7 linked regions of the Homo sapiens genome follow. The protein of the gene in region 5 purifies or fractionates together with the protein of the main gene of each other region. This does not show direct contact. Each region holds a gene or a part of one and is shown on either strand. Other genes may lie near its edges.

Region 1 (4,113 bases), on a different chromosome or scaffold from region 5:
GGCCATTGACTTTGTGCTCTCCAATGCCCGGCTGGTGCTGGGGGTGGGTGGAGCGGCCATGCTGGGCATCGCCACGCTGGCAGTTAAGCGGGTAAGTGCATGCAGCCAGGGCTGGGGGTGGAATGTAGTGGTATGGTCATAAGATGTAATGTTTTATAGAAAGAAAATGTCGAAGCGTTCTAGGAGGAAATGATCGCAATGATAAGTGAAAAAAACAGGTTTCAAAAGTATGTATAGAGTGATCGTCATTACATGCATCTAGAAAGAAACATACCAGATATTACAAACAGTTTTCTCTGGGTCATGACGTGGATTATCTATGTCTTATATCATGTAGTCTTCCCTGAGATTTTCTGCGTGGAGCAAAGTATTCTATAATCTAAAATAAAAACAAAATTACTAAAAGAACTTACTAGGACAGAGCTTCTGGGGAGGAAGTAAATTGGAAGGAAATAGGGAAAGAGGGCAGGTTTATGTCCTGTGTCCTCTCTGCTATTTCAGATGTACGATCGGGCGATCAGTGCCCCTACCAGCCCCACCCGCCTGAGCCATTCGGGGAAAAGGAGCTGGGAAGAACCCAACTGGATGGGCTCCCCACGACTGCTGAACAGGGACATGAAGACGGGCCTGAGCCGGTCCTTGCAGACCCTTCCCACAGACTCCTCCACCTTCGACACAGGTGAGAAGGGCTGCTGCCCCTCCTGGGACCTCTCTGGACTTTCAGTACCACTCCTGCACTCAGCAGATGTTTCCTGAGCACATCTGTGCCAGGCACTGTGCCAGCACTTGCCCTCCATGCCAGGCCCTTCTTTCTGGGGCTGAGGCAGCTGTGGACTGAGCAGGCATGGGCAGAGCTCACGTGCCTCTCTCTCTTGCCTTGGCAGATACATTCTGCCCGCCCCGGCCCAAGCCAGTGGCCAGGAAGGGCCAGGTAGACTTGAAGAAGTCACGACTCCGCATGTCCCTGCAGGAGAAACTTCTTACTTACTACCGGAACCGGGCAGCCATCCCTGCTGGAGAGCAGGCTCGGGCCAAGCAAGCTGCTGTGGACATATGTGCCGAGCTCCGGAGCTTCCTGCGGGCCAAGTTGCCTGACATGCCGCTTCGGGACATGTACTTGAGTGGCAGCCTCTACGATGACCTGCAGGTAACAAGGTGGTTCTCATGGTGGGTGGGGTTTGAGTGCTGAGCACCATAGTGTTGTTGGCACAGATCAGTGTCCCAGGCTTGCCAGAAAGACTGAGGTCTTACAGCTTCCGAATCCTGTGTACCTCAGCAGCATTTGGAGATCCATGCTTGTTATTCTTTTTTTTTTTTGAGACGGAGTCTCACTCTGTCGCCCAGGCTGGAGTGCAGTGGTGCGATCTCGACTCACTGCAAGCTCTGCCTCCTGGGTTCAAGCGATTCTCCTGCCTCAGCCTTCCGAGTAGCTGGGATTACAGGTGTGTGCCACCACTCCTGGCTAATTTTTTTGTATTTTTAGTAGAGACGGGGTTTTGCCATGCCGGTCAGGCTGGTCTCGAATTCCTGACCTCAGGTGATCCACCCACCTCGGCCTCCCAAAATGCTGGGATTACAGGCGTGAGCCTGGCCTGTTATTCTTTATTCTTGTGTCTTTAATCGTTTCTCATGTTTTAGTCCTACTTACAACTTCTAGGAAGCTATAAGAGGCCTCCTCCTTCCTATATTCTTGTGCCCATCTCTCCTTTCTAGTTTTCTCACTCTGTGTAGATTGCATGGTGACATGAAAGAATTTTTTTTTTTTTTTTTTGAGATGGAGTCTTGTTCTGTTGCCCAGGCTGGAGTGCAGTGGCACGATCTTGGCTCACTGCAACCTCCGCCTCCTGGGTTCAAGCAATTCTCCTGTCTCAGCCTCCTGAGTAGCTGGGATTACAGGCACACGCCACAATGCCTGGCTAATTTTTTTGTATTTTTAGTAGGGGATGGGGTTTCACCATGTTGGCCAGGCTGGTCTTGAACTCCTGACCTCAAGTGAGCCAGCCGCCTCAGCTTCCCACAGTGCTGAGATTACAGGCATGGGCCACTGCGCCCGGCCTAGAGTTCCCATTCTTGCTGGGGGGGAATGTAAGATGGTGGGAACCGTCTTAGAGGAAGCATGTCTTTTGAACAGAGTAAACCCTCAAAACCCTTTAAATTCTGCCCTGACAGGTGGTGACAGCTGACCACATCCAACTCATTGTGCCCCTTGTGCTGGAGCAGAACCTGTGGTCATGTATTCCTGGTGAAGACACCATCATGAATGTCCCTGGCTTCTTCCTGGTGCGTCGTGAGAATCCAGAGTACTTTCCTCGTGGGAGCAGTTACTGGGACCGCTGTGTAGTAGGGGGCTACCTCTCTCCAAAGACAGTCGCAGATACATTTGAGAAGGTAGTGGCTGGCTCCATCAATTGGCCAGCCATAGGGTCCCTCTTGGACTATGTGATCCGCCCGGCCCCACCCCCAGAAGCCCTCACACTGGAGGTGCAGTATGAGCGTGACAAACATCTCTTCATTGACTTCCTGCCATCAGTGACCCTCGGTGACACAGTCTTGGTGGCCAAACCACACCGGCTAGCCCAGTATGACAACCTGTGGCGGCTGAGCCTGCGTCCCGCGGAGACGGCACGCCTGCGGGCTCTGGACCAGGCTGACTCGGGCTGCCGATCTCTGTGCCTCAAGATCCTCAAGGCCATATGCAAGTCCACCCCGGCTCTGGGCCACCTCACTGCCAGCCAGCTAACCAATGTCATCCTCCACTTGGCCCAGGAGGAGGCTGACTGGTCTCCGGATATGCTGGCCGACCGTTTCCTGCAGGCCTTGAGGGGACTTATCAGCTACTTAGAGGCTGGAGTCCTGCCCAGTGCCCTAAACCCCAAGGTGAACTTATTTGCAGAGCTCACCCCTGAAGAAATAGACGAATTAGGATACACTCTGTATTGCTCATTGTCTGAGCCAGAGGTGCTGCTGCAGACGTAGGGCAGGTGAAGGCCAAAGCGGGTGTTGGTGGTCAGGCCCTGGATTCTCCGTTAGATACACTTGGCTACCTAGTTGGTGCCTCACAGGGTTCCTGCTGCCTGGTGTCTTGCTGATCATCACCCTGGTCACTTCATGCTGATTAGAATGACATCTCTTTCGTCTCCTATTTTGTTACCCAACTCTTCCTATTTTTGTTACCAATCACTGTGCTCTCTGCCGCCCCCTGGCTCCAGGCTAATTTTTCTGGAATGAATTGAGAAGGTGGCGTGCTGGCCTGAGCTGATGGACCACTTGGTGTTTTGCGTTTTGGCCCATGTTTGCTGCCTCTATCTGGTCTGCCTTGCCCGTTTGCCTGTTCCTATTCAGTGTCTTTTCTATTTTTTCCTCTCTCGTTCATGCCTTCTGTTTTGCTCTTGTCCCTGGAGCATATCTGCCTAATTAAGATGTTGCCTTTTAGTTGAATGCCACTGAAGAGCTGTGATAGCATGTTTCAAAGCTGAACTCTACAGAGCGAGTGCTGAGACAGTATTTAGGGTTTCTGGGAGTGAGGCTGGTAGAAGAGTTGGCCTTTGACCACGGTTCCTGGAGTAGAAGTCCATCCTCCCCCCAACCTCCTGACCCATTCATAAATGCTGAGAATGTCTCTCATGGGAACACTGTTAATGACCCACACAGGATAAGCTGAATGCAAAGTTATTTGCAGGTTGAATTTCTTGGTGGCTATTAGCAGAAGTGCAGAGTAGGGAACCAGAGCTGGTTAAGGGCCTAGTGAAGGGTTTGTGTGCCCAGTGTCTGCTCGTCATCTGTGGCTGCAGGGGTCAGACAGACAAGGATGGGGACTGCCAGGGCACCACTTCATCATGAATGCTGGTTTTCACACCTTTTCCTTATTTTATTGCCAATCAGGACAAGGCCTTGAAGGAACGCAGCCTTAGACATCAGGTGAGGATGATGGAGGTAGACAGTCGACTGAATGTCAGCTGGAAAATCCAGTCACTAGTTGGGGTTTGGTGGCCATGTTTTCTACCCAGACAGGCCCTGCTTTTCTAGGATGTGGCCTTAGAGCAAGAACAGACCCAACAGCCAGCCCTTCATCCTCCAGCGTCTGCCATAGGAATGTGAGAGGGGTGTTTGCTG
Region 2 (4,442 bases), on a different chromosome or scaffold from region 5:
AAAGCTGTAATAGCTTACAGATAATGAAATACCTTTTATTTAATTCTGCTGATATTCCCATGTAAGTGTTCTATGCCAGGCCTCTAGTTATCTCATGCCCTTTAAGATTAGATTAGACTCTCATAGCCCCCAGGTTTTTCTCACTTTCCTTAAAAGCCTTATCAAAATTTTATATTATTAACATATTATTTGTTTAATATCTTCTCTATCTCCTCCACTTTACTACCTCCCATGACTTTTAACTCCTTGAACATGATAACTGTGCTGTAAGTCTGGATGAAGGGTCAGCAAATTTCAGCCCCTGAGCCAAATCCATCCCAACCCTTTTTGTATGCCCTGCAAACTAAGAATGTTTTTCTCATTTTAAAACTATTGTTTAAAAATTAAATATCAAAATAATAATAGTTTTAACACATTAAAATGATATAAAATTCAAATATGAGTGTCCATAAAGTTTTATTGGCACACAGTCATGCTCATTCATTTCCATCATCTTTGGCTGGTTTCATGCTCATGCAGAGTTGAGTAATTATAATAGAGGCTGAACAGCTCACAAAGTCAAGAGTATCTACCATCTGGCCCTTTCCAGAAAAGTTTGCCCATCCCTGGCATACAGCACAGCTGTACTTCCAGCACCTGAAATTTAATAAGTGATTATTACCATCTGTTGGACTGTTGAGTGAATGAATATGAATGCACATAACTGGAGACAATAAAGTTTCAAAGATTTCACTGAAAACTATAAATAAATGAAAATTGGAATCCTTAAAATGCATTTTGTGGTTTAGGGTTGGATAATCAGAGTCAGATTTACTAAAAATATCAATATTCTATTGATCTCATTACATTAATCAATTAGAGTTTGAGTAAGGTGGGCGGGGGGCTGACTGTGAGCCCTATCCTACTAATAGTGCCTACTGCACACATCATCTTTTTGAATGATTTAATACTGCCTAGTGAGATATTTGATAGCACTCACAGGGCATGTATTAAAATCATAAAATGATCAACACAAGTATACTTGATATTTCTTCCAACTTGTAAAATAAAGAAAACTTATATTCATTCACTTTAATGTTTCTCCCAATTTGTGACTTACAAGTTTTATGATTAAAATGGGGAAAAAATCATTGCTACTAATGACATTCTATGCTGTCTTTCAGAACACAGTTTCAGAAAACAGTTTCCAGTGCCTCTGGCCTTCCTACTGAAAGCAGACACAGAGTGCATGAAGACCGTTCAAATATGTCAGGGACCTCCTCCCATGAGTCCTTCTATGACTCCCTCTCAGACATGCAGGAAGAAAGCAAGAATACTGACTTCTTCCCGGGCCTTTCTGCTTTCCTCAGCCAGGAAGAGATAAACAAGAGTCTTGACCTGGCCCGGAGAGCCATAGCCGACTCCGAAACAGAAGATTTTGACTCGGAAAAGGAGATCTCGCAGATTTTCAGTACTTCTCCTGCAAGCCTCTGTGAACATCCTTCCCATAAGGAGACCAAATTGGGTGAACACGCCTCGAGGAGACCTCAGGATAACAGGTCAACACCTGTCCAGCCTCTGGCAGAGAAACAAACTAAGAGTATCTCTTCACCTGTTTCAAAGAGGAAACCTGCCATGTCACCCCTGCTCACCAGGCCCAGCTACATCCGGAGCCTCCGAAAGGCTGAAAAGCGTGGTGCAAAAACTCCCAGCACAAACGTAAAGCCCAAAACGCCACATCAAAGAAAGGGTGGCCCCCAGAGCCAGCTGTGTGACAAGGCAGCTAATTTAATTGAGGAGCTAACATCCATATTTAAAGCCGCAAAGCCAAGAAACAGAAGCCCAAATGGGGAGTCCTCGTCACCAGACAGTGGGTACCTGTCTCCTAAAAATCAGCCGTCAGCCCTGCTGAGTGCCTCAGCCAGCCAGAGCCCTATGGAAGACCAAGGGGAGATGGAAAGAGAGGTCAAGTCCCCTGGGGCCAGGCATTGCTACCAGGACAACCAGGACTTGGCAGTGCCACACAACCGCAAGTCTCACCCACAGCCCCACAGCGCCCTCCACTTCCCAGCTGCACCTCGATTCATCCAAAAGCTGAGGAGCCAAGAAGTAGCAGAAGGGAGCCGAGTTTATCTGGAGTGTAGAGTCACTGGAAACCCCACTCCTCGAGTCAGGTATGAATTTTTGTATTATGCATAGCAAATGATCTTGTTGACTTTGGTGTTACTTTAATATGGGAGGAAGAAAGATTTCCTGTGTCATTAGCCCTCTGGAGACTGAGGTAGAGTACTTGCAAGGAGAGAAGCAGCCCAGAATCGCCACTATGAGTTGTCCTAGTTGTCCCTGGCCTGATATATCTGTGGTCATGCACCCTCTGTGCTAAGGAAGGAAGGCAAAGGACTTGAGAAGGCAAAGAGCAGTGGAAACAGTTTGTTCTCTAAGATGGTGGAACTAGTAACAAATAGGCACACTTAAGATGTGAAACTTATTTACTCGAAGTACTGTGAAAAGTGTGTGTATATTTGAATATGAGTTGCTAAAGACGGTTGAAAGCATGGCTAAAACTAGCTGCTATCTAGAAGTGAAAGGCACGAGTGTGTAGAGGCCAACCTTCAGATTAGCCCCCAATAACGCATTAAAGGGAACAATAAACACCGAGGCCTACTTGAGGGGGGAGAGTAGGAGAAGCCTGAGGATCAAAAAACTACCTATCAGGTACTAATCTCATTACCTGGGTGACAAAATAATCTGTATGCCAAAGCCCTGCAACATGTAATTTACCCATGTAACAAACCTGCACACGTATCCCCGAATGTAAAAGTTGGAAAGAAAAAAAAAAAAGATTCTCATATACAAGAAACAAAAACCAAACAAAAATTATCCCCCAAATGGATAATCTAGTCTCAGGCATGGACTAAATAGGCACATATTCAGTAACATAAACACACACACACCCCTTCAATGTGATGCAAAGAAGGAAGGCAGAACTTTCCTAAGAAAGAAAGATAAATCAAGTCAGGAGCTCCGCAGGTCTGCCCGTTATTCCTACACAGGCTCTGGCCACTAGAGCATGGAGACAGCAAGAAATAACAGTGAAGGGAGTATGCACTTAGAGTTAATAGGCACTCATACCACCATGTTCATTAGAATTTCTATACATTCTTCTGACTTCATTGTAGAGTTTATACCTTCCCCTGAGCAAAAATGTTAAGGGGAAAGAGATCCTGGAGTCCCCCTGCAGGGTTTCCAGTCATGATTCCATTGCCCAAGTTACTCTACCCCTCTGTGACTCAGTTTCTTCATCTGTGAAATGGGAAGTATAATGATACCTACATCATTCTGTTTTATGATTAAATAATACATGGGGAAAATTAAAGCAGTACCTTGCAGCTAGTAACTGCTGCAGTAGTGTTACCTATTATCTTTATTATTTCTCATTTCTTAATTTTATATGGCAAAATGAAAATAACAAGTCAGGATTATACTACACAAATAATGAATATTCATTTATCTGGGAAGTTTTGCTTTTATTCATGCAGAATGCTTTACCTAAATTACATAAATATTTAAAAAGTTAACTCAAGGGCCAGGCACAGTGGCTCATGCCTGTAATTCCAGCACTTTGGGAGATTGAGGTGGGTAGATCACCTAAGGCCAGGAGTTCGAGACAAGCCTGGCCAACATGGTGAAACCCCCTCTCTACTAAAAATACAAAAAATTAGCCAGGCATGGAGGCGAGTGCCTGTAATTCCAGCTACTCAAGAGGCTGAGGCACAAGAATCACTTGAACCTGGGAGGCAGAGGTTGCAGTGAGCCAAGATCATATCACTGTACTCCACTCCAGCCTGGGTGACAGAGCGAGACTCTGTCTCAAAAAAAGAAAAAAAAAAAGTTAACTGAAAATTATTTGATTTGGAAAAAAATGGTAAAGTAGACATCACTGGCTAAAGATTGAATTGAAACACTGGTACTTTCTTACTAATAGCATTTCACAGATCACAAACTTCCCTGTATCTCTGATCCTTTGCTCACTAACACAAGCTTTGCTAGTGTTGGTTTCTTAATCTGACCTCATTGTGCACACACATGAAGTAAAAATTAGCATTACTGGCTGAAAAGTGGTGTGATTACAGGTGGGCGATTTTTTTCCCCCGACCAATTTGTTCAACTAATTCACTTTGAGTCAGCTTTACAGTAATTTTACTATAATTCTTTAAGAAACTGACAGCAGGGGGCAGTAAAAAACTTTTTCATGTGTTCATTTAATTAAATATGTCGTTCTAAATTCTGCATTTATATGTTATTTATGTAGATTATTTATACAGATTTATATACATGAAGAATTTGTTTCTTACATTTTACCTTTGACAGAAATGAATGTTTCAGATTCTATTTAGATTTTTTAACCTATCAATCTTGCAAATAAATAATTTTCATTAGACATTCATTCTCATGTCACTCAA
Region 3 (4,442 bases), on a different chromosome or scaffold from region 5:
CCGCAATTTCTCTCTCTGGCTCTTTCTTCATCAGTTCTAGGCCACATGATTTTCACACTGGCTAACGGTCCAAATCTTCCAAATTCTTGGCACAGCATTTCTTCATTCATCTATTAAAAAGGGTAAAAGATTTTTATTATGCAAAAAAGGGAAAAGAAAAAATTATTTTCAGAAAACAAAGTAGTTTTTACAAAATAAAAAGCAACATAGCAACGTGCTTCAATTTTCCATTTAAGTACCAGGAACGCCACACAAGTAAAATCCCGCGTGGGGCATTCATAAATCATTTCATACTATAAATATTCTGGTTTATTTAAGATGCCAGGGTGGGGAAGTTCAGTGGATGAAGAAATCAAAATCATTTTTACTCTCTATCTTCCTTTGTTTTAAGGTCCTGGATCTAAGTAAGATGTTTTATAGTGATGGTTTGTTTAGGCATTTAGTAACATTTTTCAAGCAGGCATGGTTAGTACATTTAAATTAAAGAGGAAATATGTATTGACAATGAAGAAAAAAAGTATCTAATCATCTGTTCTAACAATCAACTACCCATGTAATCAAATGCAGAGAAAACAGGTAACAGTATATATGCAAAATATAATTTTTAATAATAGCATATTATATACTACCGTTACTACATTCCCCATATCATAATTAACAGCACCAATGCAGGAAAAGAATTAAAATATAAAAGACAAACCACAAAGAGTAGTTTACTACTATGAGAAGAAAAAGGGACTCCACAAGGAAACAAGTATGCATCAGAAGTGGACAGTCTCAAAATAATATTATTCATCAATGGTCACACCCTGATTTAATAATAAAATCAGCACCTAGTAAAACATTTCAAATCCAGAGTTCAATCTAGTTACTGAAAGAGGAAACAAGAATATGTGGCAAGACAACCTGGGCCATACCAGTAAGACAACTCTAAAGACTATCCAATTCCATCAGATTTGTCAGCTTCAGAATCTTGATTTTTTTTGACTAACAAAGCTTTCTTCCAAAAGCATAAAGCATATCAATCAACATTCATCTTACTTAATATTACCTGTGGATTAATGTTTCCAAGGTATAAATTAGTAGTGCTTGGATCTCCTACATCATGTGAGCCAGGTGCGTAATCATCAAGAACTAGGGCAGAAAGAAAAAAAGAATTATAACCTGCAAAACATAAAGTTTGGAAAATTTATCGATTAAAAGAGCAAAAAACTGTATTACCACCAGATGATCTATTTCTTCTTGAAGGCGCGTCCACTTAAAGGGGAGAAAAGAAGACAATTATTAGTTTTTATAATACAGTAGTCCCCCCTTACCCTCACCTTTGTTTCCCCCAGTTTGTTACAGTAAGGTATTTCTGAGAGACAAAAAGAGAGACCACTTCACACAACTCTGTTGTTGTTGTTGTTGTTTTTTGAGACAGACTCTTGCTCTGTCGCCCAGGCTGGAGTGCAATGGCACGTTCTCGGCTCACTGCAACCTCTGCCTCTCAGGTTCAAGCAATCCTTCTGCCTCAGCCTCCTGAGTAGCTGGGATTACAGGCACGCACCACCACGCCCGGCTAATTTTGTATTTTTAGTACAGACAGGGTTTCATCATGTTGGCCAGGCTGGTCTCGAACTCCTGACCTTAGGTAATCCACTTGCCTCGGCCTCCCAAAGTGTTGGGATTGCACATAACTTTTATTTCAGTATATTGTTATAATTGTTCTATTACTTATTGTTGTTAATCTCTTACTGTGCCTAATTTACAAATTAATTTTTACCACAGCTATGAATGTGTAAGGAAAAGGATAGTATATATCCATGGTTTCAGACATCCACTGGTGATCCTTGGAATGTAACCCGCCACGGATAAGGTGGGAACTACTGTAATTAATCACAAGCATACACATTAAAATAAATGCCACTTACTAGAACGACGCTGACCATCAGAATCTGACTGAGGAGGTTCAAATCGACTTAATCTGCCTTTTGTTTTATGTCTCTCATCACGTTCCTCTTGAATTCTGTTGAAAATATTTACAATCACTTATAATGAGCCAAAATTTGTTCATTCACATTTCAGAATAGCGCTTATCAAATTACTATCATCAAATAACTAGAAATATCTGTAATTAAATACTGGTACTGATAACCAAGATTAGAGGGTCCCTCAGCTATAATACAACCACGAGCAAATTTCTGATATATCATACTACCAATGGAACACAAAGCCTACTTTAAAGGTGAGGAGGAAATTAAACACTAAAACCACTGAATTTGTTTCTTGCTAAGTCTAACTGCCCCTCACTCCCATCCCAGTGAGTATACTGTTTCCACTGCAAACAGGACTCTGGACATTAAGTAAATCAATTGAACTGAATCCTCGTAATGCAAGCAACCCAGGTGCTGGACTAAATGCTAATTTATTTTCAAAGATAGCCCACCAAATATTATAATATCTAAAACAATCTCATAGCAAACTGGTTAGTAATAACTAACTGGTACAGTATATTCTTTATACTTGCATCTGTTTATGTATCAGCTCAATACACCTATGATAGTTATTCTCCACACTATAAAACTTACTGCTTTAATTCTTCTTTGAAGAGTTCCAAATTGCTTTTTTTCTTTTCTTTCTCTCCTTTTTTAAGTGGCTATAAAGGATATGACAAGTTATACTTCAAACAAAAGGATAAGCAAAACCAATGATTCAATAATAAGAGCCTTTTTACATCATTTCAGTACAAATTGTATGTTCTAATTATTTAAATTAAAAAGGAAGAATGCTTTTCTTATCATTGAACCTCCCTTCCCCTTCCTTCAAAATAACAAACAATTAAATTATTACTACAATTAAACAATTAAAATGACAACCAGTAGTCAGGGAAATTAATGAACATGAAGTAACTGAACTGCCATGGAAAGTAACTGCCAAAAATACGCACTCTTCAAAAATCACCTCTGGAGGACATGAGTTACTGGAACAGTAAGTAACATCTTTGGAATCCTCTTTTAAAACTGCTTCTTAATCTACTTTTGGAATCCTTCTTTTAGAAGTGCCAACATAATTTAATAGGGAAGAATAATCTTTTCAACAAATGGTGCTTGGACAACTGAATATCTACATACAGAAAAATGAAGTTGGACTTCTACTTTACACCATATACTAAATGTACAAAAATTAACTCAAAATGGTTCATGGACATAAAAGTAAGAGCTAAAACTATAACACTTTTGGGAGAAAACCACAGGAATGAATATTCATAATCTTGAATTAGGTGATGGTTTCTTAGATATGACACCAAAAGCGTAAACAAAAGAAAAAAACTGATAAATTGGACTCCATTAAAGTTTAAAACCTCCATGCTTCCATCAAGAAAATGCAAAGACAACCCAGAGAACAGAAAACATTTCCAAATCATATAGCTGATAAGAACCTTGACTCAAGAAGATGTAAAATACTCTTACGATTCAACAACAAAAATACAAATAACCCAATTAAAAAGTGGGCCAAGTATCTGAACAGACATTTCTCCAAAAGAAACTTATAAATGGACAATAAACACATGAAAAGATGCTCAATATAATCAAGTACATGCAAATCAAAACCACAATGAAGTACAACTTCACACACACTAAAATGACTAAAATAAACTTTTCAAACAAAATAGTTTTGTTTGTTTGTTTGTTTGTTTTTGAGATGGAGTTTCGCTCTTGTTGCCCAGGCTGGAGTGCAATGCTGTGATCTTGGCTCACCACAACCTCTGCCTCCCGAGTTCAAGCGATTCTCCTGCCTCAGCCTCCCGAGTAGCTGGGATTACAGGCATGCACCACCATGCCCGGCTAATTTTGTATTTTTAGTAGAGACGGGGTTTCTCCATGTTGGTCAGGCTGGTCTCAAAGTGTTAGTGTACGACGTGAGAAAACTGGAACCCTCATACATTACTGGTGGAACTGTAAAGTGATACAACCACTTTGGAAAAACTGGCAGTTTCTCAAAAGGCTAAACATAGTTACCATGTGACCCAGCAATTCCACTTCTCGGTGTGTGTATATACATGTATCCAAGAGAACTGAAAACATAAGTTCACACAAAAAAAGCCCACACATGAATGTTTACAGCAGCATTATTTCTAACAGCAGAAAAGTGGAAACAATCCAAATGTCCATCTACTAAGTAATGCATGGATAAACAATATATGGTATGTCCATAAAATGGAGTATTATTCAACCACAAAAAGGAATGAAGTACTGATTCATGCCACAACAAAGATGCACCTTGAAGCATTATGCTAAGTAATGAAGCCAGATACAAAAGACCACGTTATATAATACCATCCATAAAAAATGTCCAGAATAGACAAATCAAGAGACAGAAAGTAGATTAGTAGGCTGTCAGGGACTGAAGTTAATAGAAAAAAAAAATGGGAGTGACTGATAATGGGTAGGGATTTCTTT
Region 4 (4,442 bases), on a different chromosome or scaffold from region 5:
CTCCCAAAGAAATACAAAAATTAGCTGGGCGTGGTGGTATGCGTCTGTAATTCCAGCTACTTGGAAGGCTGAGGCAGGAGAATTGCTTGAATCCAGGAGATGGGGGTTGCAGCGAACTGAGATTGTGCCACTGCACTCCAGCCTTGGTGGCAATGAGATTCTGGCTCAAAAAAAAAAAAAAAAAAAGTGAAAAAGTGGGACAATTCTGATCCATTGACAAAATTTCTACAGTTAGTGAACATATTCTGGAGAGCCTGTTGGGAAATATATTTTTTTTTTTTTTGAGACAGAGTCTCGCTCTGTCGCCCATGCTGGAGTGATGCGATCTCGACTCACTGCAACTTCTGCCTCCTGGGTTCAAGCAATTCTCCTGTCTCAGCCTCTCTAGTAGCTGGGACTACAGTCACATGCCATCATGCCTGGCTTATTTTTGTATTTTTAGTAGAGATGGGGTTTCACCATATTGGTCAGGCTGGTCTCGAACTCCCGACCTCAGGTGATCCACCCACCTCAGACTCCCAAAGTGCTGGTCTCCCAGTGGCGTGAGCCACCGGGCCCGGCCTGGGAAATAGTTTTTATGGTACTGCAGTTGTTACAGGGATGTCCTGTGTAGATTTTTTAAGCACAGGTAACTGTTTCTCTGATATTCTGAGTCAGTTTCTTGTTGTGGGATTGATAACAGTAAATTGTATTTTTCAGCCTTCAGGCTCTACACACAGATGATCCTCTCACTTGGGATTATGTGGCAAGGCGAGAATTAGAGATTGAGTCACAGACAGAAGAGCAGCCTACAACGAAACAAGCCAAAGCAGTGGAGGTCGGCCGGAAGGAGGAGAGGTGCTGTGCTGTGTATGAAGAGGCAGTGAAGACTCTGCCAACAGGTGAACTTCACCAAACCATGGTGTGATATAGAAGGAATAGTATCCCTGATTGTGAAACTTAAGCTCCTGTTCCCATTGCCAAAATCAATATTGGGGATGTCTCTGTAACATAGTTTACGATGAGCCTGGCCTTTTTTTTTTTTTTTTATTGGGAGGCAGAGTCTTGTTCTGTCACCCTGGCTGGAGTTCAGTGGCTCGATTTCGGCTCACTGCAACCTCCACCTCCCGGGTTCAAGCAATTCTCCTGCCTCAGCCTCCCAAATAGCTGGGACTACGGGTGCCCGCCACCATGCCCAGCTAATTTTTTTGTATTTTAGTAGAGACGGGGTTTCACTGTGTTGCCCAGACTGGTCTCGAACTCCTGAGCTCAGGCGATCTACTTGCCTTGGTCTCCCAAAGTGCTAGGGTTACAGGATTACAGGCGTGAGCCACCGTGCCTGGGTTTTTTTTGTTTTTTGTTTTTTTTTGAGACAGAGTCTCACTCTGTTGCCCAGGCTGGAGTGCAATGGTGTGATCTCGGCTCACTGCAGCCTCCACCTCCCAGGTTCAAGCGATTGTCCTGCCTCATCCTCCCGAGTAGCTGGGATTACAGGCGTGTGCCACGATGCCTGGCTAATTTTTGTATTTTTAGTACAGACGGAGTTTCACCATGTTGGCCAGGCTGGTCTTGAACTCCTGACCTCAGGTGGTTTGCTCACTTTGGCCTCCTAAAGTGCTGGGATTACACGCATGAGCCACCGCATTTGGCCGTGCCTGGCTTTCTAACTTGGTCTTGGCTTTCTAACTTTTATGACCTTCCTCCATAGTAGTGGTATTTATGTTCATCTATTTTGGGGGAAGCTTAGGAAATAATTTCTAAGATTCTTCAATTATTATTTCTTAATTATCTATGTTTTTTTTTGAGACAGGATCCTGCTGTGTCACCCAGGCTGGAGTGCAGTGGCGCAATTTCAGCTCACTCCAACCTCTGCCTCCTGGGTTGAAGCAATCCTCCCGCCTCAACCCCCTGAGTAGCTGGGTCTACAGGCGCATGCCTCCACGCCAGGCCAATTTTAATGTATTTTTTGTAGAGATGGAGTTTTGCCATGTTGCCCAGGCTGGTCTTGAACTGCTAGAATCAAGTGATCTGCATGCCTCGGCCTCCCAACTTGCTAGGATTACCGACATCCTTAATTATCTTTTTGAGACAGAGTCTCACGCTGTTGCCCAGGCTGGAGTACAGTGACACGATCTCGGGTTACTACAACCTCTTCCTCCCAGGTTTAAGCAATTCTCCTGCCTCAGCCTCCCGAGTAGCTGGGATTACAGGTGCATGCCACCATGCCCCATGGATTTTTGTATTTTTAGTAGAGATGAGGTTTCACCACGTTGGCCAGGCTGGTCTTGAACTCCTGACTTCAGGTGATCAGCCTGCCTCAGCCTCCCAAAGTGATGGGATTACAGATGTGAACCACTGCCTCGCCCTTAATTATCTTTGGAAAGTGATTTAATTTTTATTTTGTAATAATGTAGAATAAAGGCAGAGGGGATATATAACCTGGATAAGGCTTTCAATTTTTATATTTAAGCTGTTACTCAGTTGTTTTCCCCCAATATTTGAGGTGTTTGATTGGCTGTAGTCAGCATAACACTTCTTAAAATCAGGCTGATTTAAACTCTTCTTCAGAGGAGAGTTTTCCCCTTGAAGTAAAGGTGTAGGATGACTGTTTTTTTCCTTATCTTTTAATAACTTTGATGTGATGAATGTTGAACTAAGTGATCTGATCAACACAATCTTTCTGACTTTTCCAGAGGCCATGTGGAAGTGTTACATCACCTTTTGCTTGGAAAGATTTACTAAGAAGTCAAATAGTGGGTTCCTTAGAGGGAAGGTGAGGTTGTTACATGGTTACAGTGGTTGACTAGATAGTGACTGCCTTCTGAAAGAACAGAAGCACAGATCTTTTGGTGTCTGGCACAGTTTCTGAGAACTTTTATGTTTAGCCACTCTCTCTCTCCTTGTGGGTGACGTGACATTCTAAAGGTCTGAGTCTGGTTTGCCGCCAGGTTAGGAGGGGCTCTCGTGTAACTGGGCTCTGTTCGGTGCAGCTGCCCATTGCATCTATTCATAAGTGAAACCACCATGCAGGAGCAAGTCAGCTTCTTTGAATTTTAAGAAATGCGCAAAACTGCTTTTGTTCATGTCAGAGGCCAGAGGCCCCTGCTGGGATCTTTGTAATGAACTGAGGGATTTTTCTGTTTTCAGAGGTTGGAAAGAACCATGACTGTATTCAGGAAGGCACATGAACTGAAGCTTCTGTCAGAATGCCAATACAAGCAGTTGGTAAGAACATAGAGAAAATATTCTGTGCCAGTTACAAATACCTTATTCCAGTTGTTTTGTGCCAGAGTCATGTTTTAAATATATATAGTCTTAAGATGAAGGCCACTTGGGAGTTCGGTATGTGAAGTGTGTTTATATGTGTTTCCCAGTATTTGGCCTATGCAAAAAATGAAATCTGTACTAGCAAAGGGAGGAGTATTATACAGTGAAAAGCACTTAGAACAAGAGTCATGATTTGGGTTTATTTTGTTTGTCCACCCATTCCTTTTTTTTTTTTTTTTTTGAGACGGAGTTTCACTCTGTTGCCCAGGCTGGAGCACAGTGGCGCGATCTCAGCTCACTGCATCCTCTGCCTCTTGGGTTCAAGTGATTCTTGTGCCTTAGCCTCCCAAGTAGCTGGGATCACAGGTGCATGCCACCACGCCCAGCTAATTTTTGTATTTTTGGTAGAGACGGGATTTCACCATCTTGGCTGGGCTGGTCTCTAACTTCTGACCTCAAGTGATCCCCCTGCCTCGGCCTCCCAAAGTGCTGGGACTAAGGCATGAGCCATCATGCCTGGCCAAATTTTTGTATTTTTAGTAGGGACAGAGTTTCACTATGTTGGCCAGGCTGGTCTTGAGCTCCTGACCTCAAGCGATCTGACTGCCTCAGCCTCCCAAAGTGCTGAGATTACAGGCATGATCCACTGCTCCTGGCCGTGCCTGGCTTTCTAACTTGGTCTTTCAGGCGTGAGCCACTGTGCCCAGCCTAGATGATTCATCTTCTGTCGGAAGAAACATATCAAACCGTTTTGTCTCTTAGACTGGAGGCTCTATGGGTGGTAGGGAATGCATCTGATTTGTTCACTATTGAATCTAGCACATATAGTGTGCAATAAAAATGCTTGCTGAATGTACTGATTATATACTGTCATTTAATTTTTCACAAATTTGTACAATTGGATTGTTTTTAGGTTTTTTCTCTTTTTCAAATAATGTAGGTATAAGCATTTTGAACAGGTAAAATTTCCTTTCATTCATGTATTTTTTGGACCATATTTGTTAATGTAGAAGTCCCAAATTGAAGCGTTGAGCACTTTCATGACTCTTGCTACAAACTGTCAAATTGAATTTCAGAAAAATTTGCTTTAGTTTATGTTATGTCCAACTCTGTTTGAATATACCTGTTTCCTTGACACTCCACAAATACTGATTTTGTGGATTGATTTTTGTTTATTGATTTTTAAAATTTTTTTG
Region 5 (4,442 bases):
GTCACTTGGTACAATGCTAAATATATGAAAATGTAATATTGATTTTCATCACAACCTACAAAGCCATTACCATTCACTGCTTTAGCTAGAAACTAGTAATCTTCATTCCTGAACTCTGAGGTTAAAGCCGCAAGTAATGTTCCATACCTGAATGGCAGTGTTCCATAAATTCTTAATGAAACCCTGGTTTATCTTTTTGACCTTTGACTTCTTCATTGCCTTTATGTGTGCCTTTGAAAACACTTAACATTTTCCATTTTAAACGGTGTTATACAGTATATACTTCATGTCCATTTTATTTTCTCTTCTGTGAGTTCCCTATGGAGCTTTGTGTGTCTTATTCATTGTATCATCATTAGGGCCTAACATGGTACCTGGCATGCAATACGTCCTCAATACACGTTTGTTGTATCAGTGACTGATCTGTTTTTTTGCTGTTCCTGAAAGCACAGCATCTTAACTACTGTAGACTTTTAGTTGATATTTGTTGAGTGAATTATATGATGACCTATGAAAGGCTTATGTGGACAAGTATACACTTGTAGGAAAAGTACTGGACTAGGTGGACTTTAAAGTACTTCAAAACTCTGAAAGTCCATGAATTGCTTCATTTATTCCGTCAACAAACATTTGAGTACTTACTGTGTTCCAGTCACATGCATACATGGTAATGATGAAAATGATAAGGTCCTTTCAAGATGCTCACAATTTAGTGCAGGAATTTTAGAAGAATATTGCTTAATAAAAACAAAACTACTACTTCCAAGATTTAGTATTGGAAAGAGAATTTCAGATGAAGAATGGCAGGATTCCACAATCTGTATTATCCCCTAAATTTTACCTCCCGTTGGAGGATTCTTTGACTCAAACTGCCCTCAATAATGGCCTGATAATACTCAAATCTTCAAGCCCAAGAGTGGATAAAAATTCTTGCCTTCAGGTTCCTTTTAGCAGAGTTCAAACAGCCTTGAACTTTACTCAGTATTAATGGAGGAAATATAAAGGAATAGAAGAAATGTAAAAACAATCTGATTTACAAATAAAGATTTCTGGTGCTACCATAATACAGAGCCTGTTTCAGGAACTCCCCACCCTTGTCTGATTCTGTCTTTGCTTTAGTTGTAGTTAGATTATATACCCAAAGGGCATACCAAACTTTGATATTTTGGATACCTCATTTCCCAGCTTCTTTTTGGACTGTCTTTTCTGAGTGAATGCCATTTTAGCATTCCCTGCCTAGGAGCTTCCTTTCAGACATCTCTGCTCTGTTTTGGTCAAGACTTATGTTTAGTCAGCAGCTTAGCAGGGGCTCCTTTGTTTAGTGGCAGCCTCTTCAAGTGATGAAAGCCAGGAGGGACCTCTCTCCAGGTGGGACCAGTCCCATGCAGACCTTTGTATCTTCATAAGTTCTTTATAAGCATATCAACACAAGTCAGTAATCTTAGCATTCATACAGAGACTTTCAGTAACTTGATAGTTTCGTTTAGGCAATTATAGGAAATCATTCCCTTCCTAGGAGTTAACAACAGGTACAAACATTGTCCTCTGGGGTTGCCAATGAACCTCCTGCTTGTGGTGGTTAGAGAAGACCAACAATCTCTTCTACAGATGGGTCTTGCAGGGTGAGTAGGAGTTCTTGTGAAAAAGCCTTTCCTGTAGAGGAAAGGGCATTTTAGATAGAGGAGGCAAGAAAACTCCCATTCATTAAGAAGCACTAGAATGTCCTGATTAAGGGTGGACAACGGAGCCAATTGGCTTGAGTTCAGAACTCAGCACTCAGTGTCCTCACATTTTGAGGAATCTGGAAATTAGTGTCTGCAGGAGGAGTGACTCTGATAGCAAAAATTACTGAACCCTTTGGTTGAAAGATTTCAGGGTTCTTTTTCTGGATAAAAAGGCCTGTGTTGGTGGTAAGGTGTAGAGAAGGAGGCTGTAGGAGAGATAACTATAGAGAAGAAAGTTACTGGGGAGGGCGATATGGGGAACTGCCTTTCTATATTCTGACTTTATTCAGGACCAATTTATACAACATAGGCCCTGCTGTGTTCTCTCTAAGTCCTGAGGGCAGAGCACAAGCAATTGTTAAGAGAGGGGTGAGATTTTTAATCCCAAAATAAGGAGATCTGATCCCCAATGCCTAGCACAAAGGAGATATGCATTATATGTTCCTTGAATGAATTAAGCAATGACTGGTGATCACCTTTTTGAATTGAAATGGACCTGAGGATTTTGTGAGTTTCTGTCAGCAAAGGTATTTAAGTTGAGCCTGAGAGAAGTTTAGCAGCTTGCTTTAGGCCAGGGTAATCAACAATACAATATGGGATGGGAGTGGGAAGGGGCTGGGATGAGGGGGTTGGATTTTTTTTCTGCTTCGAGGGCCTTTTTTTCCTGACTCTAAATTACTATGATTCGAAGTGGCCATGACTACTTGACTGTTTCCTGAAAAAAATATGTTAAAATTTTATTTCATCTTATGAATCCTCATAGTATTGGTTCATTTACCATTAATTCTTTTTATTATGAAATTACACTATCCCAGTTCTCTGCTTCAACCATTAGTTTGATAATTAGACCTTGGTGCAGTTCAGTTGAGCTCCTGATAGAGTTTTATGTACCATGTATTTTATAACATTTGCACAATTTTCTTAAGAAATGCAAATCAAAGTTTTATAGTGCCAAGCACAGTTCTGAAAGTTGAGGACTTTTCAGAGTGAGGGAGTGAGCGCTCTGAAGTCAGCAAAATTAGAACCCATCTAAACTAATTTTTCAGTGTGTGAAGTCTCTAATAGCATAAAATTAATACACTTTCCACTGCGCACTTGAGACTCATCACTTGGTGGTAATAATTGTGGATTTCAAGGTCCCAAAGAGGGAACTTGTCCTGTATGATTGTGGAAAATTAGACCTTTACTCCGAATTCAAAACATGAAGCACTCTTCATGCTAGCAAATCTTTCTGGGAACAGGCTGCCTCTGTGTTTCCAAAGGTCAGAAATAGACTGACTTTTTAAGGAAAGATCACTATGGGAAAGCTTATTTGAGGAGGCTTACTAGAGGAGGATTAGCTTCAAGTGATCCCAGAGCTCCTGACAGTTCTGAATTTCCTGTTTTTATATTATTAAACCAGAGTCTGTCCAGGACCTCACAGATCTTAATCAGTATATATTCATCCACATATTGCAATGCTATGGGAAAGTTAGGATGGCAATTCTGACACTCTTAAAATGAGTAATTTTTAAATCTTGAAATCCTGACCAGCTGTCTTACACCTCAAGTGCTGCTAAACTTACTTTGAAAAAGGAATATAGGTAAAAATCATAGGATTTAAGTAGCTAGAATAAACTTTAGAGAGATGGCCTTTTCCAAACAAACAAAACCAAAACTTTAGAAAAGGAAATGTGAGTTTTTACTTGCACAGCATCTTTCTCTGGCTGTCTGTTTTCACTTTGCATTTGGCTTTGAGAAAGCATGGAGAATCATCTTGATGTCATTAGAAATAACAGTGTGGGGAAAATTAAAACACTTTGTGGCATTTAGAAATCAATAAGTAGATTGTGATTTAAGACTACTGCAGGTGGTGATTTGTTGATATCTGTAACACTAAACTAAATTGTGTACAGTATATACTTAGAAGAGACTGACCACCATACCAAGCTTTTCTTCTCAACTATTGGCAGAATAGAAAGAATTTAAAAAGAGATCACACTCCTTTATTTTTATATGAGTAGGTCTCCCAAGGAGAGTGTTACAATTAACCTAGAAATTCCCTAACAGAGAAAAAAAAAACAAAAAAAACTCCCCTTGTGCAACTTCAGCAAGCAGTCTTCTCTTTAAAAAAATTTTTTGTATTTCGGGGCAGGGAGCCTCTTCATCCAAATATTTTATTTAGTCCTTAGTAAAAATTAATTCAGAAGTATGAGAAACTAACCAGTAAGACCAAAAAAGAAAAGGTCATCTCCTTGTCTCTTGGCAGGGAGTGCTACTTTATGGTCTCCTGTGCCTTTAATTTAAGGATTCTTGGAAAAGAACTGGGAGTCTGATCTCAGCTCTACTCTGCATTGACCTTGGCATTTCCTGGGGCATTTCATCACTCTAAGCTTCAGTTTGTCCATCTGGCAAAGGAGGGGGTTAGATTTCCTAGCTATGACTCTTGTACTGTGATGTGCTTCTGTAGTGACTAGATAAGTAGTCTCTGCAACCATATCATCCTAAAATCTCAAGTGGAGGAAAGCACGCATTAGGGAAAAAGCAGCATGCTTGTGTGAAACTGTCAGCACCTCATGTTGCAACTGTAAAACGATGCTTTCTAGAGCCTTTGGATGGCAGCGGTTATTTATTCCTGGATGAAATATTAAGAAGTATTTGTTTTGTGTTAGTGCCTAACACCCAGTTGAACTAGATTCACTACATTCCTACTTCTAGATGAGTCCTTTACTTTCAAAC
Region 6 (4,868 bases), on a different chromosome or scaffold from region 5:
AGCACACTGAAGAGCCTGGACTTTATCTTTTAGTCTAGGCATACCCAGAAGTAAAAAGACTCAGAAAGCAAAAAAGCATATATTAGAGATAATATAAGCAGTACGAAAAAAAAAAAAAAGTTGGCCAGGTGCTGTGGCTCACGCTTGTAATCCGAGCACTCTGGGAGGCAGAGGCGGGTGAATCACTTGAAGTCAGGAGTTCGAGACCAGCTTGGCCAACATGGTGAAACTCCGTCTCTACTATAAATACAAAAAAAAACTGGCCAGGTGCGGTGGCTCACGCCTGCAATCCCAGCACTTTGGGAGGCTGAGGCGGGTGGATCACGAGGTCAGGAGTTCAAGACCAGCCTGGCTAAGATGGTGAAACCCCATCTCTACTAAAAATACAAAAATTAGCCGCACTCCGTCTCAAAAAAAAAAAATTAGCCAGGCGTGGTGCCAGGCGCCTGTAATCCCAGCTACTTGGGAGGCTGAGGCAGGAGAATTGCTTGAACCCGGAAGGTGGAGGTTGCAGTGAGCCGGGATCACGCCACTGCACTCCAGCCTGGGAGACAGAGTGAGACTCTGTCTCAAACAAAACAAAACAAAACAAAAAAACTTCTAAGTCAAGTAAGGTTCAAACACTAGAAGGCAGTGAAATACGAATTTGGGGCAAAAGATTGCGGACGACGTCAGACTTTGAGAAACTTAACTGTGAATCTGCGTCTGAGGTAAATACATTTCACTGTTTCCGTTTCTGCAGCTCTTCCTAAGGAATGGAAGCCCAGACTGCCTGGGAGGCAGGAGACCTCGTTTCCAGCTCCCGGCCCTTACTGCCGCTGCAAATCCTAGACTGGCTAGAGACCATTCGCTGCAGCGGACGTCGGAAAACGAGACCTCGCAGTTCAGGAGGCAGGAAAAAGACATGCCCGCGCCCTCATCCCAATAGGTGCTCATAGCGTTTGGCCAGCTTGAGCTCCATTCGGCCCCCACTTACCCAAGGGCCCCTTCCCCGCGGCCTTCGCTTTTAGCTCCTCGAGTTTCTTCTGCTCCTCTTTTTGTTTCTGCTTGAAAGCCTTATCTTCCTGGGGAGAGGCAGAGCGTGTTCAACTCAGGCCTGTCTCCCAGCGCCCCCGCACCCGCCAGTGCCTCCGCGCCCGCCCTCACCTCGTCCATCTCCTTGGCCTGCTTCTTGGGCTGTTTCAGTGGCTTCTTCTTGCCACCTGTGGGCGACACGAGCACGTTCGGCCTGCCCCTGCCGCCCGGTCCCCACCCCGCCGTCCCCGCAGTCCTCACGGTTCCGGAACACTTACCTTCGCGGCCGGACATGGCGCCTGCCGCCGCTTCCCCAGACCCTGCCACCGGAAACGGAGCGTCTGCCCCACCCTTTGTCGTAGACAGCGAGGCGGCCCCGCTGATTGGCTCCTAGTCAGGAAGTTGAACTCTCGCTACCGGATGCGGCGCTCCAGGGGCGGGTACTAACAGGTCAGAGGTCAACTGAGTGGCAGACGATTGGTCGGGCCACGCCAGGTACGAGGAGCTAGGGTTGTCCTGCCAGGGTAGAATCGGAACCGTAGGAGGGGTACTTAACCGGACGGCCTACCAGGCCTGTGGCCGTGCGCGGGAAGAGCACTGCAGGTAGACAGCAGGGCATGTGCATGTGCAAAGAGCTTCAAGCTCGTCGCTTTCCTGGAACCAAGGAAAGCACAGCTTGGGTGGAGGGAGATTAGGCGGGGAGATGGCAGAAGTGGACGGGAGTTATATCACGTGGTCCTATAGCTTTGGAAAACCCTGTAAGGAGTTTTATAATATAGTCAGGGGTGCAGCAGTTTGCGAATTCTGTTTGTTCATCTATGAAAATGGTCAAAAAAATTTATTTTGGTGATGGCCATACAACTCTGTTAATATAGTAAAACTACTGAATTGTACACATTGGGTGAATTATATGGTATGCAAGTTATATATCAATAAAGCTTTTTTTTCTTTTCCCCCCGAGATGGAGTCTTGCTCTTGTCTCTCAGGCTGGAGTGCAATGGCACGATCTTGGCTCACTGCAACCTCTGCTTCCTGGGTTCAAGCGATTCTCATGCCTCAGCCTCCCCAGTAGCTGGGATTACAAGTGCCCGCCACCATGTCCGGAAAATTTTTGTATTTTTAGTAGAGACGGGGTTTCGCCATGTTGGCCAGGCTGGTCTCGAACTCCTGACCTCGTGATCCCCCCGCCTCAGCCTCCCAAAGTGTTGGGATTACAGGCGTGAGCCACCGCACCCAGCCAAAGTTGTTATTTTTTTAAATAACAGTGCTGAGCGCTGGGATGCTACAGTGTCCAGAGATTAGGCAGATGAGTACATTTTTTGCTGGGTACGTACTATATGTAGGTACCAAGCTGAAATTCTAGTGAGTGAGACAGACTATAACCAAAGCAAATAAATGGGATACATGTTGCAGGTCATGTGATATATGCATGGAAAAAATAAAGCAGAGAAAGTGGGTCAGGAGTGCTAGGGTGGGAGTGGGATGGCCATATCTGATAGGGTGCATGGGGAAGACCTCCCAAGGGGCTACTATTTGAGCAGGACTTGAAGAAGGTGAGGGAGCGAGCAGCACAGATAGCAGCTGTCGTGAAGGCCCTGAGCTGGGGACAACTTGGTGCGTTCCAGCAACTTCAAGAAGGTCCATGTGCTTGGAGTGGAGTGAGGAAAGGGAGACTAGTGGGAGATGAGGTCAGAGAGGAATGAGAGCCAGTGGGTAGGTTCCCTGTAGGCCATGGAAAAGACAGGCTTTTACCTTGAGAGAAGTGGGGAACCATTGTAGAGGTTGAGCAGAGAGACAATGGTTCCACCTGTGTTTGGAAAGGAACACTGACTGCTCGACTGACAATAAATTGTAGGGGCTGGAATAGAAGCAGGGTGACATCTGTCAGGAGGCTCTTGGGATAATCCAGGCTAGAGATGTGATGTGGGTCACTGGGACCATTTGGTAGCAGTGGCAGAGGTGAGAGGAGGAGGGATCCTGGATTTGGAAAGCCAGGGGCATTTGCTGATAGATGGATGTGAGGTGGGAGAGAAATGAGGAATCAGGGGTGATGCGAGGTTGTTGATCTGAATATTTGAACTTGGTATTGCTGTCATCCATGATGGAGAAGGCTATGGGAAAAAAAGGTTTGGGAGGGGAAGATGAGATCCCCATTAGATTTTCAGGCAGAGATATAGGTTGGGAAGTTTGATAAATGAGCCTAGAACCCTGGGGAGAGAGGTCTGCGCTGGAGGAGTCAAGAGTATAGTTCTGTTTTTTTTTTAAAAAAACAACTTTATTGATATATAACTTGCATACCATGTAATTCATGCAATGTGTACAATTCAGTGGTTTTATTATATTCACAAAGTTGTATGGCCATCACCAAAATAAATTTTTTTGACCATTTTCATAGATGATTTTTAAAACCACAGGACTGGATAAGAGAGGAGTCTGAGTGCCGAGTGCCGGGGTGCTACAGTTTCCAGAGGTTAGGCAGATGAGTGGGGACTGGAAACCGAGTGAAAAATGGCATGTGAAGGAGGAGCAGGTGAAGGCCAGATCAGAGGGAGCTGGACGGAATCAGAGAAGAGGAACAGAAACAGTGAATTCAGGCAGTCTGTCAAGGAGTTTGGTTATAAAGGAAACCAAAGAAATGGGGCAGTTGCTGGTGGGGGGGTGTCAGATCAATTACTGAGTAATGTCTCAGGAGGAGAGAGGATTTGGGACCTGGGGCACAGGTTGGTTTTCCCTAGAAGCATGGGTTTTTTATCCTGAGGATCAAGAGAGGAGGTGGAAATGGGGCAGTTACTGATGGTTGGGAAGGTATGGTGGGAGTTTGTGGAAGTTCTCTTCCAACTTTTTATTATTTTCTTGATGGAAAATGAAGCAAGCAGACCATCAGCTGGAAGTGAAGATGAGGAACAGATGATAGAGGCTTGAGGAAGGGGCAGTTGGTAGGAGACAGCCATCTACATAGAGCGGGAGAATGGATCTGAAGGGGCAGGATTCCGAACTTGACCCTCAGGGCCCTGCTTCACCTATCCAGCCTCTCCATCCACTCTTCTCTGCTTTTGCTTTCCAGTTGCACTGACTGCCTTTCAGGTTTTGGGCGACCTCAAGCACTTTCCACCTTTTCTCTTTGCCAGGAACATTCTTCTCCTTGCTGGTTGGGGGGCCTGTGAAACATCTAAGTGGTGACATCCTGGGGGCTGAGAAACAGGGCCCAGGGTTGGGGGCTGGTGGGATGGTGGAGAGGCTGAGGGGAGGGACTGGAGTGGAGAAACAACTCCAGTTGCCACATGGGAATTATTGCCACATTCCCTTATGAAGTCTGTTGTCACCCAGCTTATGTTCTAGTGAGAGAATAGGCAACACATAAGGAAATATATCCATCAGGAGAAAAATAAAGCAGAGAAGGTAGCTGGGGAGGGAGTGGTCAAGGAAGCCTTACTGAGAGGTGATATTTGGGCAAAGATGAAGATGTCGGGGTGAGCCGAGTAGACTCGTGGAGGAAGAGTCATCCAGCTGGACAAGGTGGCAGGGCACAGACCAGCACGGTGGCTGGAGCAGAGTATGGCAGTAGAAGGAAGAGGATGAGGGCTGAGAGGTCTCAGGATTTCTTGGCCACCGCCAGGTGAAATGGGAGCTGTTGGGGGATTTTGATCAGAGGGATGTAATCTGATTTTTGTGTTACAGGGCCTTGGGCTGCCATGTGCAGAACATGGGGGTGGGGGACGGCAGGGGAGAAAGCCGAGATTGCATAGGAGACAGTAGCTGTCATCTCTGCCAGGAATGGGTGACTTTGCTGGGGTCTAAAAATGGGCAGCTAGTAGAGGAGGTGCTGGGAAAGGAGGCTGAGAAGGTTGGAGGAA
Region 7 (4,442 bases), on a different chromosome or scaffold from region 5:
CACCACTTCATATATACTGGCAAAAAAATGTAAAAGTTGGATGTTACCAAGTGTTAACAAAGACATGGGACAAGAGCAACACACTTAACACTGCAACAGGAAGTGCAACCATCCTGAAAAGAACCGTCTCCTAAAGCAGAAAAAGAACACACTCCCTGACCCATTAATTCCATGTATATGTGTTCCCTAGAGAAATCTTGGACATGTATGCAACAAAGATTAATAAGTAACTTTTCACTGCATCATGTTTAGCAAAATCCTAGAAACAAACTAAATGCCCATCAAAAGGGAAATGAAAATAAACTGTGGAATATTCATGCCTGAAATACTATATGGAAGTGAAAAATGACCTAAAGCTCAATCAATATGGGTAAATCTTATGATAAATTAAGAACAATTTGCAAAATGATATATACAATATAAAATCATTTACATAATTATATATATCCTTCTATATTTATATAAAGAATATGCAAAATATCTCAATGAAGGGGAACTTTGGAAATCTCTATGAAAATTACAAAGGTACTACTTTGACCTAGCAATTCTGTTTTAAGAAATTTTCCCTACAGAGATGCTCACACTTGTGCTAATCACTTATGCATCACATTGTTTTTGTAGCACTGTATGTATTAGCACAACATTTACTGAAAATAACCTAAATATTTATCAGCAGGGGACTAATTAAAGAAATTCCGATCGACCTATACCATGGAGTGTTATGTGGTTGTAACAAACAATAAAGGTAGTCTTTATGTCCTGAAATGAAAATGTTGCCAAGAAAAAGCAGGTGAAAGAGACAGCTGAGGAGCAATATGTACTGTAAAGCTACCACTTATATTAAACTGGGAGATAAAAGAATATATATTTATATATATTTGCTTGTATGTATAAAATCTCTCTGGTTACACACTCTGGAGTGTTACATCTCTAGAAGTTACCATAAAAAAAAAAATGAAAAATTTGGTTGCATGTGGGGAAGAAAAGTGACTGGCTGGAACAGCAGACAAGGAGAGACTTTTCCATTCATACCTTTTTGAATTTTGAATCATGTACTACCTATTCAAAAATATATTAAAACATTTTAGATACAAAATAAAACTACAATTAATTTTTTTAAGATATAAAGGCATGCATAGGAATGACAACAAAATTAAGATGGTTCATTCATTATAAAGAGAAAACAGGCCCACTGAGGCTTCAACCATATTTTTAATATTTTATTTCTTAAGCTGAGGGTCACGTGTAAGAATGTCTGTGTGCAATTCTCTACACTTTTTGTGTATATGCAAGATCTCACATAAAAGTGGGGGAAAAAGCTAATGACATAAATCATGGCACCTGATATGATGTGTACACATCAGTGGTAATCAGCCATTGACAGTTATTATTTGGGTACAGAGGAAGACGACTGGTGGTGGAAAATCTGGGTATATTCTAGCTTTTCTACTTATAGCCTCATACCAAACTTAAGTTTTTTAGCCCTCAGTTTTTTTCACCTACAAAATGGAGTTAATATCAACACTACAAAGTACTAGAAATGAAAAAAGAAAAAAAAAAAGCACAGTTCATTTGGAAAACCAAACAATGCAATCTACCTCTTGGGCATGTTAGGAGAGGTGAGGGGGGCAACAGATGAGTCTGAAAAGGTAGAAGACTTGAGAATGTGGAAGACCTTGTATGACATATTAAGAAGCATGACTTTGTCTTGTAAGAAATCATTGAAGACAAACATTTAAAAGATAATAGTAACAACTTTTACAGTGCTTACAATCCACCAGCACTAAGCACATTACATATATTAACTCATGATTTCCCCAATTTTTATCCCAATGTTATAGATGAGAAAACTGAGGCATAGAGATAAGTTCTGTTCTGGATAAGCTGATTTTGAGGCACTTGTTAAGGTGCTAGTTAAGTCAGTGAACAAGTTGTATAAATTTAACACTGGGAAAAACCCAAAACTACAAATCTCAATCTCAAATACAAAGTAATTAAGCAAAAAAGGATTCTTAAAGTAGGGAAAATCCTCTTATATCAAATAAATTATTACAAAGAAGTATCCAGTTGAATATAATTTCAAGATCTAATAGATGCGTTCTTTACGACCAGATAATATCAAGTGATATCAAATACTCCTGCTCAGGATGTGCCTGGTTTCCACTCTACTTCTACTTTCAAACGATCCGTGTAGAGGTAGTTCGCAGCCCTCCTGGTTTCCCTCCCGCCTTTCTCACTGTTCCTTTCTCAATCTTTCTTCTCCCCATGTACCCCTTTTGACCACTCCACACAATCTCCTTCACGCCAAATCTTATCAATAAGCTAGCTGCGAATCCAGAACTGCAGTAGCCTCACTGAGCTTTTAGATATGCCCCAATTATCTACCAAAAACCCTCCTAGGATGTTTCATAGCTTCCCTTCCCCCTCTAACGTGCCTTAGCCATTGCCAAAATTTATCAGAAGGTTGTCTCATAGTTTTGTTTATCACTATGTTTCTTCAACATGTTAATGAAGTTTAGTATACCGTGAGTTACAAAAATGTATAAACTATCAAGAAAACCTGAAAAGAACTTAGTAAATGAAGTACCCTTCTGAAGAAACTGATTAAACTTCATGATTTCAAAATAAAACTAAAACCAGTCAGGTGTGGTGGCATGTGCCAGTAGTCCCAGCCACTAGGGAAGCTGAGGTGGGAAGATCGCTTGAGCTCAGGAGTTCAAGTCCAGCCTGGGTAACATGGCAGGACCCTATCTCTTAAATAAAGCTAAAACAATTTTGCATTTCCATAATGTCTTTTCAAACTGCTTATATATTTATGACAGCAACTCACTTTCACTATAAGATAATTTTACTAATGAAAAAATGATACTAAGAATTTAAATGATTTGTCTTTGGTTACAATTATCTAGATGTACAGGTAGGGGCAAAAAATATATATACATATACACATCTATTCATTCTTACTCCTGCTTAAATGATAAGTAATTAGTCTATATTAGAGCTTCTTAAGCTCTGTGTCTGCCAAGATATTGATCCCCTCTGCTCTTAGGGGAGTCACTTGGGTCAGAAACGCAGGGCCAATTACCAGCAGCCACATACAGCTTCATGCATTCATCACAGTGTACCAGTGGACCACAGAAATAGGATTTTTGATGTGTGCCAAGAGAAGCAGGTTGGGAAGAACTGCCTTTATGGCATTTCATACTATTTAGTATAGTTGATTAATTTTTAAAAAATTTTAACAATTTTAAGTGAATTATCTTAACACAAAATTTAGAAATTTATTTTAAGATTTAAACTAACTGCTTTCATCCCCATTAAGAGAATAACACTACTTACTAGAAATAAGCAAGCCTTACTATGGCCTTACTATGATATACTCTTCATTAGTAAGGCAGCTGAAACTGGACAGCATCATAGTCCAAACTAAAGGATATCTTTAGCTCTCCTCAGTTAGCTATCACTGTATTCTAAACACCTACCAACAAGAGGGTGGAAACAGTAACTCAGGAGCACAAATTCCAGATGTGATTAAGAATAATACCCTAGTTACCTGAGATGTCGAAATAGCATGTATTGACTTGTGACTATGTATGACCATGGTTATGAATAAACTCATTAAAATATCTTACGCATCTAGACTCAAAGGGCTCTAAAGAGCAATTCTCTTTTGGAGGGGGTTAGGGGTAGGAAGCCATGGAAGAAATTCTCAGGTTCCCGCCAATCAGGAATTTTTAACTGCATCTTACCTGGTTTTTATTTGGATTCTCCATGAAGACACACTGCTTCATTATGTAGGAGACAACAGCATTCCCTCCTAATGCAGCAACATGAGCTCTCACCATTGCAAACACTTCAGCAATAAAAGCATGGAGAAAACCACTGACTCCTCCTTCCTAAATAATAGTGCACAGGAAAATCATACTATATATACATGTGTATGGATATAGGAATGCACACAAAATGTCAAAGAATATATATTAAAACATCCTAAATTATCTTAATATACCAAATAACTTAAACTTCCCTCACAATGGGGATTTACTGCATGAATGAACAAACATTGACTGAACACATGTCCAGGCAAGGATTTACTACCTTTACTTTACAGATGATAAAACTGAAGCCCGGAGAATTTGTAATTTGCCCATGACTAGCTATGATCAAATTAGCTAGTAAGTAAATGGCAAGGCAAGAATTCAAATTGTGCCTCCACCTTCAACATCTCCATCATATCATGCTCATCATCATTTAAACAAATTGATGATAAGCCTAAACGATAAAACTTACCTGTTATCTATATCTCTCATTCTGAACCTGAACCATGTTCCAATCAAACTTGCCTTTTTTTCAGTTTCTCAAATGCACAAGCACTCTTCCTACCTCAGGCTCACTGGCACATGTTGCTCCTGCAGACTTTTCATTTTTTTTTTTTTTTTCAG

What was found.
Region 1: the proteins of WDFY2 (region 5) and MIEF1 purify together in Homo sapiens (affinity purification with mass spectrometry; 3 studies listed by BioGRID and IntAct, with this or other methods). This does not show direct contact.
Region 2: the proteins of WDFY2 (region 5) and PALLD purify together in Homo sapiens (affinity purification with mass spectrometry; 3 studies listed by BioGRID and IntAct, with this or other methods). This does not show direct contact.
Region 3: the proteins of WDFY2 (region 5) and U2SURP purify together in Homo sapiens (affinity purification with mass spectrometry; 3 studies listed by BioGRID and IntAct, with this or other methods). This does not show direct contact.
Region 4: the proteins of WDFY2 (region 5) and UTP6 purify together in Homo sapiens (affinity purification with mass spectrometry; 3 studies listed by BioGRID and IntAct, with this or other methods). This does not show direct contact.
Region 6: the proteins of WDFY2 (region 5) and CCDC51 purify together in Homo sapiens (affinity purification with mass spectrometry; 3 studies listed by BioGRID and IntAct, with this or other methods). This does not show direct contact.
Region 7: the proteins of WDFY2 (region 5) and C2CD5 purify together in Homo sapiens (affinity purification with mass spectrometry; 3 studies listed by BioGRID and IntAct, with this or other methods). This does not show direct contact.

What each region holds. Positions count from the first base shown.
Region 1 is NC_000022.11:39,511,348-39,515,460, forward strand, and holds part of MIEF1 (mitochondrial dynamics protein MIEF1), read left to right. Parts: coding exon 1-91; intron 92-501; coding exon 502-679; intron 680-884; coding exon 885-1,147; intron 1,148-2,169; coding exon 2,170-2,976; 3' UTR 2,977-3,882; coding exon of another isoform or gene 3,883-4,026; 3' UTR 4,027-4,113. UniProt on the Homo sapiens protein: Mitochondrial outer membrane protein which regulates mitochondrial fission/fusion dynamics.
Region 2 is NC_000004.12:168,510,260-168,514,701, forward strand, and holds part of PALLD (palladin), read left to right. Parts: intron 1-1,163; coding exon of another isoform or gene 1,164-1,245; coding exon 1,246-2,153; intron 2,154-4,442. UniProt on the Homo sapiens protein: Cytoskeletal protein required for organization of normal actin cytoskeleton. Roles in establishing cell morphology, motility, cell adhesion and cell-extracellular matrix interactions in a variety of cell types.
Region 3 is NC_000003.12:143,018,165-143,022,606, reverse strand, and holds part of U2SURP (U2 snRNP-associated SURP motif-containing protein), read right to left. Parts: intron 2,639-4,442; coding exon 2,571-2,638; intron 2,009-2,570; coding exon 1,914-2,008; intron 1,258-1,913; coding exon 1,222-1,257; intron 1,135-1,221; coding exon 1,052-1,134; intron 111-1,051; coding exon 1-110.
Region 4 is NC_000017.11:31,877,012-31,881,453, reverse strand, and holds part of UTP6 (U3 small nucleolar RNA-associated protein 6 homolog), read left to right. Parts: intron 1-699; coding exon 700-881; intron 882-2,672; coding exon 2,673-2,752; intron 2,753-3,126; coding exon 3,127-3,204; intron 3,205-4,442. UniProt on the Homo sapiens protein: Part of the small subunit (SSU) processome, first precursor of the small eukaryotic ribosomal subunit.
Region 5 is NC_000013.11:51,586,988-51,591,429, forward strand, and holds part of WDFY2 (WD repeat and FYVE domain-containing protein 2), read left to right. Parts: intron 1-4,442. UniProt on the Homo sapiens protein: Acts in an adapter protein-like fashion to mediate the interaction between the kinase PRKCZ and its substrate VAMP2 and increases the PRKCZ-dependent phosphorylation of VAMP2.
Region 6 is NC_000003.12:48,436,737-48,441,604, reverse strand, and holds the start of CCDC51 (mitochondrial potassium channel), read left to right. Parts: upstream 1-1,485; 5' UTR 1,486-1,617; intron 1,618-4,868. Other genes in the region: TMA7 (translation machinery-associated protein 7), read right to left, coding at 977-1,064, 1,147-1,202, 1,293-1,308.
Region 7 is NC_000012.12:22,450,147-22,454,588, forward strand, and holds part of C2CD5 (C2 domain-containing protein 5), read right to left. Parts: intron 3,897-4,442; coding exon 3,750-3,896; intron 1-3,749. UniProt on the Homo sapiens protein: Required for insulin-stimulated glucose transport and glucose transporter SLC2A4/GLUT4 translocation from intracellular glucose storage vesicle (GSV) to the plasma membrane (PM) in adipocytes.